2 separate regions of the Homo sapiens genome follow, and region 2 is linked to region 1. The links come from fine-mapping of genetic effects on gene expression. A gene starts in region 1. The other region holds a variant in brackets. All regions are shown on one strand. Distances are from middle to middle.

The links. PIP is the estimated chance that this variant, and not a neighbour inherited with it, causes the effect.
Region 2: its variant is the best candidate, but not a certain one, in a credible set for the expression of CASTOR1 in whole blood (INTERVAL, PIP 0.60).

What each region holds. Positions count from the first base shown.
Region 1 is chr22:30,285,451-30,293,894 of GRCh38, reverse strand. CASTOR1 (cytosolic arginine sensor for mTORC1 subunit 1) reads left to right here and starts at 4,390. Exons shown (of 9, transcript NM_001037666.3): 1 at 4,390-4,510; 2 at 5,119-5,189; 3 at 6,335-6,522; 4 at 6,608-6,740; 5 at 6,947-7,070; 6 at 7,519-7,632; 7 at 7,797-7,879; 8 at 7,969-8,063; 9 at 8,207-8,444. The coding sequence starts at 4,398. The coding sequence ends at 8,275. It overlaps TBC1D10A (TBC1 domain family member 10A), which reads left to right. Exons shown (of 9, transcript NM_031937.3): 8 at 90-244; 9 at 1,044-1,905. The coding sequence ends at 1,520. RefSeq lists an enhancer at 3,073-3,132 and silencers at 4,013-4,452, 4,653-4,732.
Region 2 is chr22:30,311,423-30,319,959 of GRCh38, reverse strand. All of the region lies in intron 1 of TBC1D10A (TBC1 domain family member 10A), which reads left to right. Among named protein-coding and RNA genes, the nearest start is that of TBC1D10A, 11 kb to the left of the region's middle. RefSeq lists an enhancer at 5,063-5,122. The variant T/A (reference allele first, on the strand shown) is at 5,351.

The DNA of each region.
Region 1 (8,444 bases):
CCCCTGTCCCCAGCAGCCCACAGTGGGGCCTCTCTTTGCAGAGAAACCCCAAAAAGCTTCCTTGTACTTACTGCCCATCCCCCATGCAGGGGTCAAGATCATCTTCCGGGTGGGGCTGGTGCTGCTGAAGCACGCGCTGGGCTCCCCTGAGAAGGTCAAAGCCTGCCAGGGCCAGTACGAGACCATCGAGCGACTGCGGAGCCTCAGCCCCAAGATCATGCAGGAGGCCTTTCTGGTCCAGGAGGTACAGCCCATGCCTGCCCCTTATCATGGGGAGGGAGGAAGACAGGTGGGGGTCCTTTGAAGGGGGTCCCGCTAACCCTCAGCCCCTGAGGGTGGATCCTATGCCAGGACCATTGCTAGGCAACACAGAACATGTGGGTGGACCTCATCCTTCTGTCTGGTGAAGAGCATGGGGCACAGAGAGGCTTGGCTCTGCAGGGCCTTCTGGATCCGAGCCGCTTGGGAATGAAGAAGAATGTTGACCCACGGCCCCGTCTTCCTCCCTGGTACCCCATTCGCAGCCTTGGCTCTTATTTCTCTTTGTTCTTTCTTTATGGATACTTGTCTCTCAGGGGCAATTAGGTGGAACATGCGTGACCAGCTTTTACACATGAGGAAATGGAGGCTCACAGAGGCAGAATCACTAAGCAACTCCCCTTAAAGTCACCCACCCAGGTGGAGCTGGAATTTGAGCCTAAGCAGCCAGGCTGCCCTGGGCAGCGGTGGGTGACAGGTTGGCAGAGAGCAGGTTTTTGTCTGTCTGGGTCTTACCCCTTTAGCCCCATAGTCAGGCAGGTGGACTCGTGAAGCTGTGGGCAGCTTTATCCTCTGAGGCGGTGGGTCTCAAGTGTCCAGCTCACCTGGCACTCAGCTGTGGGGCTCGTGACTGCAGCTTGGGACTAGACCCTCATCCTTCCTGGGGTCAGTGTTTAGTGGCCAAGGCTGGGGGATGCTGAGGAAGACTGGGGGCCCAGGCTGGGAGGCAGAAGGGGAAGGTCCTTCTTCTTGGTGTCCACTTGCCTGTGTCACTGCCCCTGCAGGTGGTGGAGTTGCCCGTGACAGAGCGCCAGATTGAGCGCGAACACCTCATTCAGCTGCGGCGCTGGCAGGAGACCCGGGGTGAGCTGCAGTGCCGCTCCCCGCCCAGGCTGCATGGTGCCAAGGCTATCTTGGATGCAGAACCTGGTCCCCGGCCTGCCCTACAACCTTCACCATCCATCCGCCTGCCCCTAGATGCCCCCCTCCCTGGCTCCAAAGCCAAGCCCAAGCCACCCAAGCAGGCCCAGAAGGAGCAGCGGAAACAGATGAAGGGGAGAGGGCAGCTGGAGAAGCCCCCAGCCCCAAATCAAGCCATGGTGGTGGCCGCTGCAGGAGATGCATGTCCCCCACAGCATGTGCCCCCGAAGGACTCAGCCCCCAAGGACTCAGCCCCTCAGGATTTGGCTCCCCAGGTCTCAGCCCACCACCGCTCCCAGGAGAGCTTGACGTCCCAAGAGAGTGAGGACACCTACTTGTAACCCTGGCAGCTAAGGCCTCCAGGGCGGGGTCTCCATATAACTACACGGTTCATGAACTGACATTCCACATCCTGCCCACCCTCTGAGGGCCAAGCTGCCTGGCCACTGGGCTGGGCTGGAGTCTGGCTGGTCCAACACAGATTCTGCCTGGTCCAACACAGATTCTGCCTGAGCCTCCTTATTTATTTTCTTTACAGTGGCACTCAGGCTGGCCCAGCCAGGGCAGGCAGAAGCTAGGGCCTGGGGGGTGGGGCCTCCTTCAGCCCCCTCCTCCTGGGGGATGCTCCCCAGGGTTAGGGTGCTGGTGTGAGGGGAAAGGGTGGGGTGTTCTTTGTGTAAAATAGAAACATGGTTTTGTACAGAAATAAACAGCCTTGTATAGAGAGCTCGTGTACAGCTAGGGGCTGGGAAGGGGGTACCACCTTGGTCACCTTGGTGCTCAGCATCTCTTCTCTTTGCCCTACAGAGCCCCTTCTCCTGGGCCCCAGCCCAGCACCAGAGCCTCTCTGAGAGGTACCTTTGCCAGAGGACATGCCAAGTCCCTGGTCAGCCCCCATTCTTAACCCCCATTTTCACTCACCCCATCCCCACTGCCTTATGTCTACCTTCTGCCACAGATGAGGGACACCAGGGCTGGAGCTCAGTGCTGGGCAGAGCAGGGCGTGCTCCCTAGGCCTTGGTCCTCACCCACCCACCAAGGGGGCAGGGACTCCTAAGGAGGAGGTTTCAGGGTCTTCCTCCTTCAAGTCCTGGCCTGGATGCTACCTCAGGCTCCAGTAAGTTTCTGAGAGCTGATTCTGGGTTGGGGTCAGGGACGGGGCCCGGAGTGGAGCACCACGAATGTCCTCACAGGCTCAGCCCAGGCCCTCAGGGAGGGGGGCGAATTGTGGTTCTTTGATAAAATGCCGCCTTCGATTTACTGCCAAGTGCCAGGCTGGACTGGTCAAGTAGGCTCCATTAGCCCCATTTAACAGACGAGGAAACAGGAGCTGAATGGGAAAGCCTCAGCCGGATTTGCACCAAGAGCCCCTCACTCAGCTTCCTCTCCTGACCAGGGCTCCAGGAGACCTGACTCTGCCCTTGAGGGCCCAGGCAGGCACTGCGGTCACAACCTGATGACTGGTGAGGGCAAGGACAGGGTGTCCCTGGGAGAGGCCCCCCTTCTGCTGAGGAAGCAGCTTTTCCAGTCAAACAATAGCGCTATTCCTGGCAGATGACCAAGCTGGGCCAGGCCAGGCCATAGCGGGAGGGGGCAGGAGAGGGAGGAGCAGAGCCTCCCTGGGAGCTTTCAGCCTTCGCCTGGGCCTGGAACATCCTGTCCTGGTACAGCTGGGGATACTGAGGCCTAGGGAGGTGAAGGGTTTCAAGAGACTATCAGGGTAGGCCACTCCACTTCCTGCCTCCTTCCCCTCAGCCCCATGGTTTCCCACTCTGTCTGCACCTGCCATTGATGAGATGGGCTCAGCCTTTGAGAAGCTCCTCCTTCCCCTAGTCCTCCAGGGGATAGGCCAGGATGTGGTGGCTACATAGTGTTTCACAGGAATGTGTCAAGCCCGAGAGTCCAGGGAGGAGGCTTAGCTTGGCTTCCATCTGCCTATGGTGGGGGCTCCAGAGCAGGCAGAGGGCCTGCTTAGGCCTGCTGGGTCCCAATCAGGCCTGAGGCCTGCTTTAGTCTACTTGGTTCAAAGCCTCACATCTGAGGCCTCAGGGTGCTCAGGCCAGGCAAGGGTCCCCTGGAGCATTCTCAGCCCTGCATGGAGCCAACATGGACATGCTGATGCCTGCTTAGCCTTGGGGGGGTCTTAGACCTGTGAAGGCCTGATAAGATCTGGGGTGTCTGCCAGTGCCGGGGGCCTCCTTGAACCTGAAGCAAGTTTAGATGTGCACAGGCTAGCTAAGGGCTGCAGGCTTTGGGGCTCAAGTTTCAGGCTTGAGGTCTGAGTACTCACTGAACCTCAGCTGCAAGGGCCTCCCCCACCAAAGTCTGAGCACTGGGCATTACTGGCTCAAGCACTTCCGGGTTTTGTTGGTATCGAGGGACCTCAAGCCTTAGGCCTTGGCCACCTGCAGCCCCCTAACCCAAAGTATGTCGCTCAGGCAGAGGTGGCTAGGATTCTACCTCTGTGTGCCCCTGGTGAGGAGCCTTCTATTTTGAAAGTTGGATGAAAGGAACAAGTGGGGCTACCAGGCCAGGTTTCAATTTGTCAGCCCCCTCGCAAGCGGGGAAGGGTAGGTATCAATCGCAATCCTGTGTTGGCGGCCCTGCCCCCTGCAGCCATGAGAGGCAGGAGAGCGAAAGGCGCCCGGGGGACAGCGCTGCACAGCAGACCTGTGCCTCTCATTGCTCCGGGGATTTGGGGGCAGCGTTCTGGTCCTAGCCGAGCTCCAGTTTGTTTCGTGTCCCTTCTGTCTCAAGGACTTCAATCATGAAACCCACGTGTGTGCCAGAAGGACAGAAACGTCCCCTCCGGGATGCTCCCACCGGCTGCGCAGCTGGCTTTCCGCGGAAAGGGCGGAGCCCAGGGAGGGGGCGCGTCAGGGGCGGGGCCTGGAGGAGTCAGACGGGGTGGGGTCTATCCCCGAGCCAGTACTAAAAAAGGCGGAGCCGTTCGGGGCGGTCTCGGTGGGCTGGCTGGAAAGCGGGATGAGGTTCTGGCGTTAGGAGGAGGCGTGACCACCCAATAGGCTTCTCTTCCCGCGGGGCGTGGCCGTCAAGGAGCCGGACGCCGCGCCTGGCTGGGCGGGTCAGCCTCGCAGCGGGCGGCGTGGACGCGGCAGCGCAGCGGCTCCTTTAAGGCTCGGGCACCACCCCCGCCGCCCCGCCTCCCGTGCGGCCTGGGTCTAGTTGGCGGCGGGGTCGGGTCCGCGCGAGCCGCGATGGAGCTGCACATCCTAGAACACCGGGTGCGGGTGCTGAGCGTCGCCCGTCCCGGTCTCTGGCTCTACACCCACCCGCTCATCAAGCTGCTCTTCCTGCCCCGCCGCAGCCGGTGCGCGCCCGGGTTCGGGAGCGCAGATAGGGGCTGGGGGCTCTGCTCTCGCTCCGGGCCAGGGTCGGAGGATTAGGATCGCCGTAAGGCAGGCAGGCAGGCGGGCGGGAGCGGGTGGGGAGGACTCTCCCCGTCCGGCCGCCATCCGGCCTGGGGGACCGCCGCCTATCCGGCCCCGTGAGGCCCCCTCCCAGGGGCAAAGCGCAAACAGCCTGGGATGGGCAATGCTTAACTCAGTAGTGTCAAATGGGGGCATTCCTACCTGGTCACTGCGGGGAGCTCCTTCCAGGACGCCTCCCTTCATGTCAGAGGGGCTGGACTAGGGGGTCCAAGGTCCGACGCCCCTGGGGCTGTCGCCGCGGGTGTGAACCTCTCCTCCCTCCAGGAGTGGAGGGGTGGAGGGTTCCTGGAGAGGTCGGGAGGCCGGAAAGTAGCCCCCAACCCCCGAGATGGGGCTAACATCCCATTGGCCTGGAAATTAAAGGCCGAGAGGGCAAGAAGGCGCCCGGCCCAGGGTCGCGGGGGTGTCTCGGGGCAGATGGAGAGAAATCCACTCCCGACCCCTAGTTCTCCACACCAAGCTGAAGATGCTCCCCACCCCCAACCAGGTGCAAGTTCTTCAGCCTGACGGAGACCCCTGAGGATTACACGCTTATGGTGGACGAGGAGGGCTTTAAAGGTGGGGGTTGGTCTGGGGAACGGGAGTACGGGAGGGGCTTGTCGTGCTCCCCTTCTGTAGGGTTCTCACCAGTTGCTGGGATCCGTCCCAAGAGCTTAAGCCTTAAAAGCAGATGGGTCGGGGTTCGAATCCTACTCCACCACTCCCTGGCTGTGTGCCCTTGAGCAAATCACTTTCCCTCTCTGAGCTGTTTTCTCTTATGTAAAATGGGTATAGTTATGGTTCTGATACATAGGGTCCCATGAGGCCTTTATAAACTTAAAACCGCTGAGGGGCACTCAGCAGTCTTAGGCCTGCAGAAGGGCCTCTGTTATGATTCCAGTCAAGTGCTGCTGTTAGAAATCCCTGGGTATTATTTCCTCCTGGTCTTACTCTCTGGTTTGGGTCACCTCCTCCCCTGCTGGTCTGGAAACTCCAGGAGTCTGAGGGAAGGAATGCAGGAGCAGGCAGCCATCTCAGGGGAGGGTCCTGGAGGCCTCCTGGCTGTGCTGGGGTGAATAGCAGCCACCCAGGCCCTGGCCCCAGCTCAGGACTGGACGCCAGCCTGGGCCCTCCCTGGGGCCTGGAGCTGACGCCTAGCTCCTCCTCCTGCTGCTGGCCCTGCCCATCCTCACAGGCTTGGAGTCTCAGGCCAGCTAGCTGGAGCTTAGCCTGTCCCCATGCTCCACTGCAGGCCTTAGTTTCCCTGTTTTTACTTCAGAAGTCTGGGTCTGCAAAAGGGGAAGGCAATCCCCCAGCCAACCTGATCTGCGAATGCCCCCTGGTGGTGCCATGTGGTACAAAGCTTCTGCTAACCCACAGAAGACACCGTAGTGAGGTAGATATTGTCGTCCCATTTTACAGATGAGGAAACTGAGACTCAAATCACCCACCCCAGGTCATAAGACAAATTAACAAAGCTGGGATTTGAACCCAGGTCTGTCTGAATCTGGACCTCTGATCTTAAGTGGGAAGTTTCAATGCCACCAGGCCAGCACTTGAAGCCTTTCTCAGTCTTTGCACACATAGGGACTTCAGGAGCCCCAGCCTCCAGACCTGCCCTTACCTTGATGGAGCCCTCCAAGGCACAGAAAGGGAAACTGAGGCTCAGAGAGGGGCAGGGGCCAGCCTTGTAGACCCTGACCTGACATGTCCCCTGCCCACAGAGCTGCCCCCATCTGAGTTCCTGCAAGTAGCTGAGGCCACATGGCTGGTGCTGAACGTGTCGTCTCACAGCGGTGCGGCAGTGCAGGCTGCTGGGGTCACCAAGATCGCCCGTTCGGTCATCGCGCCACTGGCCGAGCACCACGTGTCTGTGCTGATGCTGTCCACTTACCAGACGGACTTCATCCTGGTGAGTTTCCTGCTGGTGCTGATGCAGAGCAGGGTGGATATAGGTACCTGGGAGCCCATGTGATGTGCCATCTGCTGTGGCCCAGGTGCGGGAGCAGGACCTGTCCGTGGTGATCCACACGCTGGCCCAGGAGTTCGACATTTACCGCGAGGTGGGCGGAGAGCCTGTGCCTGTGACGAGGGATGATTCCAGCAATGGCTTTCCCCGCACTCAGCATGGTGAGGGCCGCCCCCTGACACTTGGACTTGGGCAGGGCCTCCTCTTCCCACTGGGTCCCTTCCCTTTTGGGCCCCAGTGGGGCAGGAGGACCCCGGCCAGTTCCTGGATAGCAAGACCTGCCCCTGGCCCACGCCTCTCCCTGACTAGCCACCAGGGGGCGCCCCAGCCCACGGACACCTTTTCACCTGCTGCTGTCCTCCAGCAGGGCCCAGCCCCACGGTGCATCCCATCCAGAGCCCACAGAACCGCTTCTGTGTCCTCACACTGGACCCTGAGACGCTTCCAGCCATCGCCACCACCCTCATAGATGTCCTCTTCTACTCGCACAGGTGGACCTTGGAACTTCGTCTTTGTCCTCACAGCACTGTTCCCTACACTCTGTCCCACCACTTTCCGCCCATCTATCAGTTTTGCACCTCTTGCTTGTCCTCTCTTGGGGTTCCTGGCAGCCCATGATGCTCACTTGTGCTTCACTGATGTTCGGGGAAGGTTCTTGCCCCAAAGCTGGATCCCTTTCCAGTGGGGTCGTCTGAGCCATGCCCTGGTCTGGCCCTCTCACCGTGGAATCCTTTGTTTTTGGCACAGGCTGGGTTCATTGTCCTCCCCCATCCCCACCCACACCTTCCAGAGGGCTGGACCCTTGGGCGGGTAGCAGATATGGCAGAGCCTGCCCAGGCCACCATACCAGCTCCTTCCCAGGGTTCTGGAGGCTGATCGGGAGCAGGGGCAGTAGGCTGGGTGCCTGGTAGAGCCCCTAAACCTCCCATCCCTCCCCAGCACCCCCAAGGAGGCAGCCTCTAGCAGTCCTGAACCCAGCTCCATCACGTTCTTTGCCTTCTCCCTCATCGAGGGTTATATCTCCATTGTCATGGATGCTGAAACACAGAAAAAGTAGGTGACCCCTGACCCCGGGTGGGCCCCAGGCCCCAGCCAGTCCCAGGCAGGGAGGAGGTGGGGCATCAGACTCTGAGGTCAGCAGGTGTACCTGTCCCAGAGCTCACGGTCAGGCAGGGGTGGATGGGGGTGCCCTGCCCATCACCCATCTCCCTCCCCAGGTTCCCCAGTGACCTCCTGCTGACCAGCTCCTCGGGGGAGCTGTGGAGGATGGTGCGCATCGGTGGACAGCCCCTGGGCTTTGGTGAGGGCTGTTCCCGGTGTTGGGGGGCTGGGGAGTGTCTGGGGAGCAACCGGCATGTGCCACATGTGGCCTTCCTCCACCACCCTCAGATGAATGTGGCATCGTGGCACAGATTGCAGGTCCCCTGGCTGCCGCTGACATCTCTGCCTACTACATCAGCACCTTCAACTTCGACCACGCCCTGGTGAGCACCAAGGGCTGGGGCAGAGGGGAGAGTGAGGCCCAGAAATGTGGGCGGCAGGAGGTAGTCTCAGCTGGGCCAGGAAGTCAGGGGTGGCCCTGGCCAGCTTCCGCCTTGACCCTTCCCTCCTGCCCACCTGCCCTCAGGTGCCCGAGGACGGTATCGGCAGCGTCATCGAGGTCCTCCAGCGGCGGCAGGAAGGCCTGGCTTCCTGAGGCCCATGGGCAACAGAGCAGCCTCCCTGCTCTCCCCTCGACCCAGGCTTCCAAAGACTTCTCTAAGCTATTTCCTTAAGCTCTGGAACGAGCCCCCTGTTCTGCTGGGGACCCTCGTTCCGCTCTCTGTATGTAAGCTGCGTGCAGGCACCGGCTTTTACGCGGACAC
Region 2 (8,537 bases), 26 kb before region 1:
TCCCCTTTCTCTTCCTCAGTCGAGGTAATTGAGCCTACAGGCTCAGGATGCATTGCCGACTAGAGCAGAGCCCTGCCATCATCCATCCGTTGTCCTAGCTGATCACTTTATCCTGCAGACAGTACACTTGAGGGGTAGGAGGCCTCCTTTAACTGATTAGTCTGCCCCTGGTAAATCTATTGCCGCAATCCTGGGCCCAGAGACCCTCTCCAGCAGGGAGAACACTGTACTGGCCACCCCACTGGCAAGTCAATGCTCCTGATACTTAACCAGCTTAGAAGCCCCCACCTAGGATTTCAGGGCAGCTGCCAACTTTGGCTTTCTCTGTCTCATCCTTCCATTTCCCGTCTCTCCTCCCCCTACCCTACCCTACTCCATTCTGTGCCCTGTCCAGGTCTTCAGAGGCTGCCATAGCTTAGCACTCAACACCTCTTCAGGTAGAGAAATACTCAGCAGACCCAGCAGCCTGGGAGAGCAAACCAAGGCTTACTTTTGCCAGCTTATCCATCTTAGCAGTGAGCTTATTTACCACACATTTATTGAGCACCTACTCTGTCAGACCCTGTGATTTGGACAAGAGATATAGAACTGAACAAGATGTCTGTGTTTTATTGCCCTCAAGGCACTCACAGACTTGCTGAAAAATAGAACCACAGACAAATCTTTCCAGTGTTGAGTGATGAAGGCTGTCATTGAGGCATGCAGTTGCTCTGGGAGTACAGAGGAAAAAGCAGCCAGCCCCACCTGCAGGAGCCTAGAAAGTAGTAGCATTTGATCCAGGCTTCAGAAGAGGCAAAGCAGGGCAGTCCATTGGATGAGAGGGGGCCCATGTGCAAAGTCCCTCCCAAAAGCAGTCGTTTGAGCATGTGTGGCAAGAGCAGAGATGACAAGAAGAACGGGAGGCAGTAGGATGATACGACAAGAAGAACGGGAGGCAGTAGAATGATACGAAGCAAGGGTAGGTTAGGGAAATGGGTTGGGCAGTCTCAGTCTAGCCTTGAATGTCAGGCTGAGGCCTCTTGTGTTGCATAAAAGTTAGTCCAGGAAATGGGTTGGGCGGTCTGAGTCCAGCCTTGAATGTCAGGCTGAGGCCTCCTGTGTTGCATAAAAGTTAGTCCAGGTCTGGCATGGAAGACGGCATAAAGAGGAGCTGGATTGCAGGCAGTGAGACCTGTTGGGAGAATCAAGGATGGCCTAAAAGGGCTGTGGTGAGACCTGGAAGAGGTCTGGAGCAGTGAGGATAAAGAGGCTGGCAAATCATTAGTGCTTGGTTCATGACTGCCATGTGGGCTGATGGAGAGGTAGGAAGGCTCTGGACTAGCTGAAGTGGCTTTGGCCTCTTACAGAGTCCATTCTGGAGCCCTCTGGCTACAGGGAAGCAAGGCCAGCTGTGGCCTTCCTCTGAAGAGGGCAGTGGGCTGCTGTGACTCTGCGTTGTCACAGCTCTGGGCTCCCCAAGGTGCCTGGTATGGCTGGCTTGCCCCGGGCACATCAAGGGGTTCTTTGTCTCCTTCCAGCAGGAGAGTGGGTTGGCTGACCTGGTTGGGGAAGGAATAGGATAAGCGGTGTTGAGCTTCCTGGTCTCTGCCTGGCAGACATATTGGATGATAAGGAAGGATGCAAGGAGAACCAGAAGAGAGGACTGGGGCCTGAGGACATGGAAAACCTACCTTAGGGTGGTATGGCAACTGGGAAGGGTGGGTTTGGGCCTTTGGACACAGCATACACTGATCAAGGGGAGGCACTTGGCAACTGGAGGCTTGTTTGACCTCACCTAGCACCTTTATTCTGTTCTTAGAGGTGGTGCCTTGGCTGGGACAAAACCTGTGAGAAGGCAAACCCCTCAGCACTTACAAGGGGCACCACCAGTGGCATCCGGAGATGAGAGATTCTGGCTGGAAATGTGGATTTTAGGCTAGTGTTTGAGAAAGGGCTCTGAACCAGGCACAGGGTCAGAGTGTCAGTGATGGCTCCACCACTGACCTTTGTAATATGTGACTTAGGCACATCCCTCACCCAACCATGGGGCTAATGCTTCCAGTTTTTTTCACCCAGCACTTACTATATGTGTAGCCCTGTGCTAGGCTCAGGATATAGACCTGATCTTGCCCTCACAGGGAAATCAGACATTAAACAAGTAGTTTCAACCAGTCTGGTCAACATAGTGAGACCCTGTCTCTAAAAAATAAATTAGCTGGGCATGGTGGCACGTGCCGGTAGTCCTAGCTACTACAGAGGCTGAGGCTGAGCCTGGGAGTTTGAGGCTGCAGTGAGCTGTGATTGTGCCACTGCACTCCAGCCTGGGTGACAGAGCGAGACCCCATTTCTAAAAAAAATTTTAAAAAGAGAAAGAAGTTACCAGGTGTGGTTGTATACAAAGGATTGTGAGGATCAAATGAGATAATTGGATTAGGAGCATAGTGTAAACAAATACTGCTGAACGGAGATCTGGAGACCTTAACCCTATGCCTTACTGAGCCACTAACTAGCTGTGTGACCTTGAGAAAGTTGCTTAATCTTGGTTTTGTTTTGTTTTGTTTTGTTTTTTTGAGATGGAGTTTTGCTCTTTTGCGCAGGCTGGAGTGAAATGGCACAATTGATCTTGGCTCACTGCAACCTCTGCCTTCCGGTTCAAGCGATTCTCATGCCTCAGCCTCCCGAGTAGCTGGGGTTTTAGGTGCCCACCACCATGCCCGGCTAATTTTTGCATTTTTAGTAGAGACAGGGTTTTGCCATGTTGGCCAGGTTGGTCTCAAACTCCTGACCTCAGGTGATCCACCCACCTTGGCCTTCCAAAATGCTGGGATTACAGGCATGAGCCACCATGCCGGTCAAAAGTTGCTTAATCTTTTTAACCTCGGTTTTCCCCACATAAAAACTACGCAGTTTGTATGTGTGTGTGTATGTGTGTTTGTTTTTAAGAGACAGGGTCTGGCTCTGTCACCCAGGCTGGAATGCAGTGGTGCAATCACAGCTCACTGCAGCCTCAACCTCCCAGGCACAAGCGATCTTCCCACCTCAGCCTCCTGAGTAGCTGGGATTACAGGCTGAAGCCACCATGCCTGGCTACTTTTTTTACTTTTTGTAGAGACAGAGTCTCACTATGTTGCCCAGGCTGGTTTCAAACTCCTGGGCACAAGCGATCCTCCCTCCTCAGCCTCCCAAAGTGCTTACGTTATAGGCATGAGCCACTGTGCCAGCCAACTAAGGCAGCTTTAGTGGGATGGTGTTGAAGACAGCTACATCTGACATCCTGAGACTGACCGTGGAGTATATGAAAAGTGTTTTGAAGCCTGAGTAACATAGGGAGACCCCATCTCTACATCCCATAATTTAAAAATTAGCTGGGCATAGTGGTGCGCACCTGTTGTCCCAGCTACTTGGGAGGCTGAGGTAGGAGGATCACTTGAGCCTGGGAAATCAAGGCTACAGTGAGCCATTATTGCACTACTGCACTCCAGCCTGGGCAATGGAGACCCTATCTCAAAAAAAAAAAAACAAAAACAAAAACAGTGCTTTGAGAAGTTCTCTATGTGGTACCACGCAAGTTCAGGGGAGTCACCATGGCACATGCCACAGAAACCACTGCTCCCAGCATGCTCTGTTCCTCTTGTGAGAGGACATCTCTGATTGATTGATTGAGACAGGGTCTTACTTTTTTGCCCAGCTTGGTCTTAAACTCCTGGCTTCAAGTGATCTTCCTGCCTCTGCCTCCCAAAGTGCTGGAATTAGAGGCATGAACTACCATACCAGGCTGGACTTCTCTTTGTGTGCAGGATCGGTGTCCCTCAGGACTTTGGGAATGTAATCAAATCAAGGGATGCTTTGATTTATCTAGCTCTTTAGTCTGCAAAGTGCTTTCATTTCCATTGCCTCTCAGTAACCCTTATAGGAGCAATGGGAAATTGGTAGGCTATTATTTTACCCTGTTTCCTGATAAGGAAACCAAGGGTGAGCAAGTGATGGAACAGGGCCTGGCACCCAGCATTCCTCCTTCCTAATTTCCCATCTTACCAAAGTTGGTGACCACTGTGTGGCCTCTCCTCCTCCCCTTCCTGTCCCAGTCTTAGGACTTCAGCCCAGCCCCAAGTGTCTGCACTTCTCCTACCAGGCTTTTCAGGTTGTTTTTGTTGCTAAGTTGTCATGATGGATGACACAATTCCTGTCCCAGGACTCCACACACAGCTCCTCATATGTACCCCAAGACAAGGCAGGAGTAGCTGGGTCGTGAGTGACCCAGTGAAGGAGCATAAGTTCGGAGAACTCCTGTCCCTACTCAGTGCTTTGGGCCTTGGACACTGTGAGTCCAGAAGCGATCTTCCGCGGCCAGCCACTTTTGGAGAATGCTGCTGCTTTCCCTTTCATCTTCGCTTGGCTTCACAAAGAAAGAGAACCTAGGCTGGGCACTGTGGCTCATGCCTATAATCCCAGTACTCTGGGAGGCCAAGGTGGACAGATCACTTCAGTCCAGGAGTTCAAGACCAGCCTGGGCAACATAGCGAAACTGTATCTCTACTAAAAATACAAAAAAATTAGCTGGGTGTGGCGGTGGCATTGGGAGCAGGAGTATTGTTAGGATTAAGGGAGATGTTGTTGGTAAAGCACCCAGCACAGTGTCTGTCACAAAGTAAGGGCTCTGTGGAACATGGCGGCTCTCACAATTCGAGTGTAAATTACCCTCTGAGATTTTACCTCAGACATTTAGCATAATGGTAAGGGAGCAATGCAGCTTTGGGGTGAAAATCTGGCTTCCCTCACGTGCTCTTCCAACCTACCCCACGACCGTGGAGGTTAGGCAGGAGCCAGTCCCACTCAGCTTGTGGTCTGGAGCTTCCTGGCCTGCCAGGGCAGGTTGGGAATCCCCCCATGAGTTCCTCGCTGAGTCATCTGGAGCAGGGCTGTGATCTGAGGGCCTGACCTTCCCTTTCCTTGGTCTGTAAAGATAAGCAGAAGTAAGAGCAAAGGTGGGCATCCCGAAAGATTCCACTCAAGGCTTGCAACCAGAGTGCTGCCCGGGGCCTCTGTCCTCCTGGGTGGTGGTAGTCACTTGGGGAAGGAGTCTGAGTTTGCTTAATAATTACCACCACCCTCCTCTGTGGGTTTTTTGTGGGTTTTTTGTGTTTTTTTGGTGGGTTTTTTTTTTTTTTTTGAGTCAGGGTCTCCCTCTCTCACCCAGGCTGGAGTGCAGTGGCACAATTATGGCTCACTGCAGCCTTGAACTCCTGGGCTCAAGCAATCTTCCACCTCAGCCTCCTGAGTAGCTACGACTACAGACATGCAGCACTATGCCTGGCTAATTTTTAAAACAATTTTGTAGAGACAGGGTCTCACTCTCTTGCCCAGGCTGGTC[T/A]CAAACTCCTGGCCTCAAGCAATCCTCTGGCCTCTGCCTCCCAAAATGTTGGGATTATAGGCGTGAGCTACTGTGCCTGGCACCATGTAGACTTTCATCCTGAGCTTCCTGTTCTGCTTCTGAGTGACCCCCTCCATCCTCCCAGGATAGTCACAGTAATGCCATTTCACAGAGGAGCCTGTATGGTGGACGAGGCTTTCACCTACATCACCTCGTTTAATTCTGTGAGAGTATTTATCATCATAGTCCCCATTTTAAGAAGCAGAAACCAAGTCCCAGAGAGGCAAAGTGACTTGCCAAGCATCACACAGCTTGTGCCTCTGAGTCCACTGAGCTCCAAGCTCCTCAGGAGCAAGGCTGTGTATACCCAGCCTACTGGACAGCACTTGGTGGTGGAGTTGAGTGACAGAGGGAGAGATGAGCAGGGCCCGGATTCACTTTCCAGTGCCATCCCCTGCTTGACTTGGACTTTGGCCAGTTATTGTCTTTCTGAAGAACCTGAGTTTCCTTATTCACAAAAGGGAGTTGATAATTAGAGGATTTATCTCATGGGCTTGTCAGGATTAAATGAAATAATGTAAGTTAAGTGCTGAACACAGTGTCTGGTGCATAGCAAGCGTCTGTTGTTATAACAGACATTCAGTTAAGTTAATTGAATATTAGAATTGTAATGTTATAAAATGCCATCATCAAGCAGATCTGTGCTCAGCCCTGTGCTGGGCTTTGAGGAAGATCTAGAGCTGGTACCAGGCCAGAGAGGGAATGCTCTTTATCAAGTTCTTACTATGCTTTACCCACCTGATATCAAGGTAGAGGAGCATATTCCCTTTTCACTGCTGACAACACTTAATGAAATTCAGAGTGTCTGAGGTCACCAAGCTCATGAATCACTCAACACACACATTTGTTGGCCAGGCACGGTGGCTCACGCCTGTAATCCCTACACTTTGGGAGGCTGAGGTGGGTGGATCATGAGGTCAGGAGATCGAGACCATCCTGGCCAACATGGTGAAACCCCGTCTCTGCTAAAAAAAAAAAAAAAAAAAAAAAAAAAAAAAATTAGCTGGCCGTGGTGGCGCACACCTGTAGTCCCAGCTACTCAGGAGGCTGAGGCAGGAGAATAGCTTGAACCCGGGAGGCGGAGGTTGCAGTGAGTCGAGATTGCGCCACTGCACTCCAGCCTGGGCGACAGAGCAAGACTCCGTCTCAAAACAACAATAACAACACACACACACACACACACACACACACACACACACACACACACATTTATTGAGCACCAGCTAGGTATCAGGCTTGGGACACACTGCAGAGAATGAGGCCAAGAGAGCCCCTGCCCTCCAGGAACGCGCCTTCTCATGAAATGCTGCCTCTGCAGAACAGCCCTTAGGTGGAGAAGCTCCACCTGTCCCACTGGACTGCTCACATTCCCCAAACAAGCCATTCCCTCTCCTATTAACTAGCATTTGAACATACTGAGTGTTTTGCCTGGTGTGTTCTTTCCCCTTTCTCAGCCTAGCTACTTCCTGTCACCCTTCAAACCCCAATTCAAAAGTCAATTCCCCTTTAAAGCTTTCTCTAAACAGCCCGTCCTCACCCTGGGGTCTTTTTGCAGTCTCCTAGCCCCTTCTACATGCTCCTGTGATGGCACTTCTTCTCTGTGTGCTAGTTATTTACCTACCTGTTTGTTGATGCCAGATTGACCTCCTCAAGGGCAGGGACCACATTTTATTCATCTTTGTAGATTCAGGGCCTGGAACACAGGCTCTAGAAAGGTGTGCATGGAATATAATGAGGGCCTGATTGTGTTCTGTCCCTGGAGTAGTTAGGAGAGGCTTTGTAGAGATGAGAAGGAGTTTGGAATGATGCTTCCCAAGATGATGGCACCAAAATTGAATGGGGGTTGAAGGAAGATGGCTCAGGGGTAGGGGCCTATAGAGATGGGACTAGGGGAGAAAGGGATGTGCAGGGGAACAGGAGGGCCTTGAGAGCCAGGGCCTGAAGTTTCTTTGTTTTTTGTGTTGTTTTTGTTGTTGTTGTTGTTATTGTTCTTTGTTTTCTGTTTGTTTTGTTTGTTTTGAGAAAAGGTCTTGCCCTGTGACCCAGTGGCCCAGTCTAGGGTGCAGTGGCACAATCATGGTTCACTGCAGCTTCAAACTCCTGAGCTCAAGTGATCCTCCCACTTCAGTCTCCCGAGCAGCTGGGATGACAGGGCGTGTGCCGTAATGCCCAGCTACAGGGTCTGAGGTTTCTGTTGGATAATGAGGGCAGTAGGGAGCCATGGACGAGTCTGGGCAGAGGAGGGGCCTTATATAAACAGTGAGTCAAGACTAATTTTGGTAAGATCTATCAATGAGATCTAGCAGTTTGGTAAGGATGAGTCAGGGTGGCCCCTGGGTGCCTGCAGTGAGATTGTGATCCAAGGACTCAGTCACCAGCAAGGGAATTTCAAGCAGCACTCTGCCTGGTAGGAGCTGGGATTTGGAGAAAAGATGTCTTCTGTTGAGAATAGTCTCAGGCGGCACTCAGTCACTAATACCCGTAATCCTAACACTTTGGGAGGCTGATGCAGGCAGATCACTTGAGCCCAGGAGTTTGAGACTAGCCTGGGCAACACGGTGAAACCTTGTCTCTACAAAAAATGCAAAACTTAGTGGGGCATGGTAGCATGAGCCTATGGTCCCAGCTACTCGAGAGGCTGAGGTGGGAGGATGGCTTAAGCCCAGGAGGCGGAGGCTGCAGTGAGCCGAGATCATGCCACTGCACTCCATCTTGGGCGACAGAGCAAGACCCTATCTAATACCTTTCTGCAGTTGTCAGGGAGAGCTGCTTGGGAGTTTCTCTGTGGTCTACGCCCTTCCCTAGATGAGTGCATCAGAGGAAGGTAGATACCTTGGTTTTTCTTTTTGGGAGCCAGCAAGGCTAGTGCTAAAGGAACCATTTCTCACACTGAGTAGGGTGGAGCTGAGCAGAGTAGAGAGCTGGGCAGAGGTCCAGGGCACCAAGGCCAGTGAAGGGTGGAGAGAACCTGTTTACCATTGTGCACTGACCCAGCACTAGAAGGAGCAGAGCCAGGGAATTCCTCATGGGAAAGACAGGCAGCCCCAGAATTAGCCTGCATTGGGAAGGAGGGAGAGTGAAGCAAGCCAGACTCTCTCACTCAGACAGGGAGCCTGGACACTGCCAG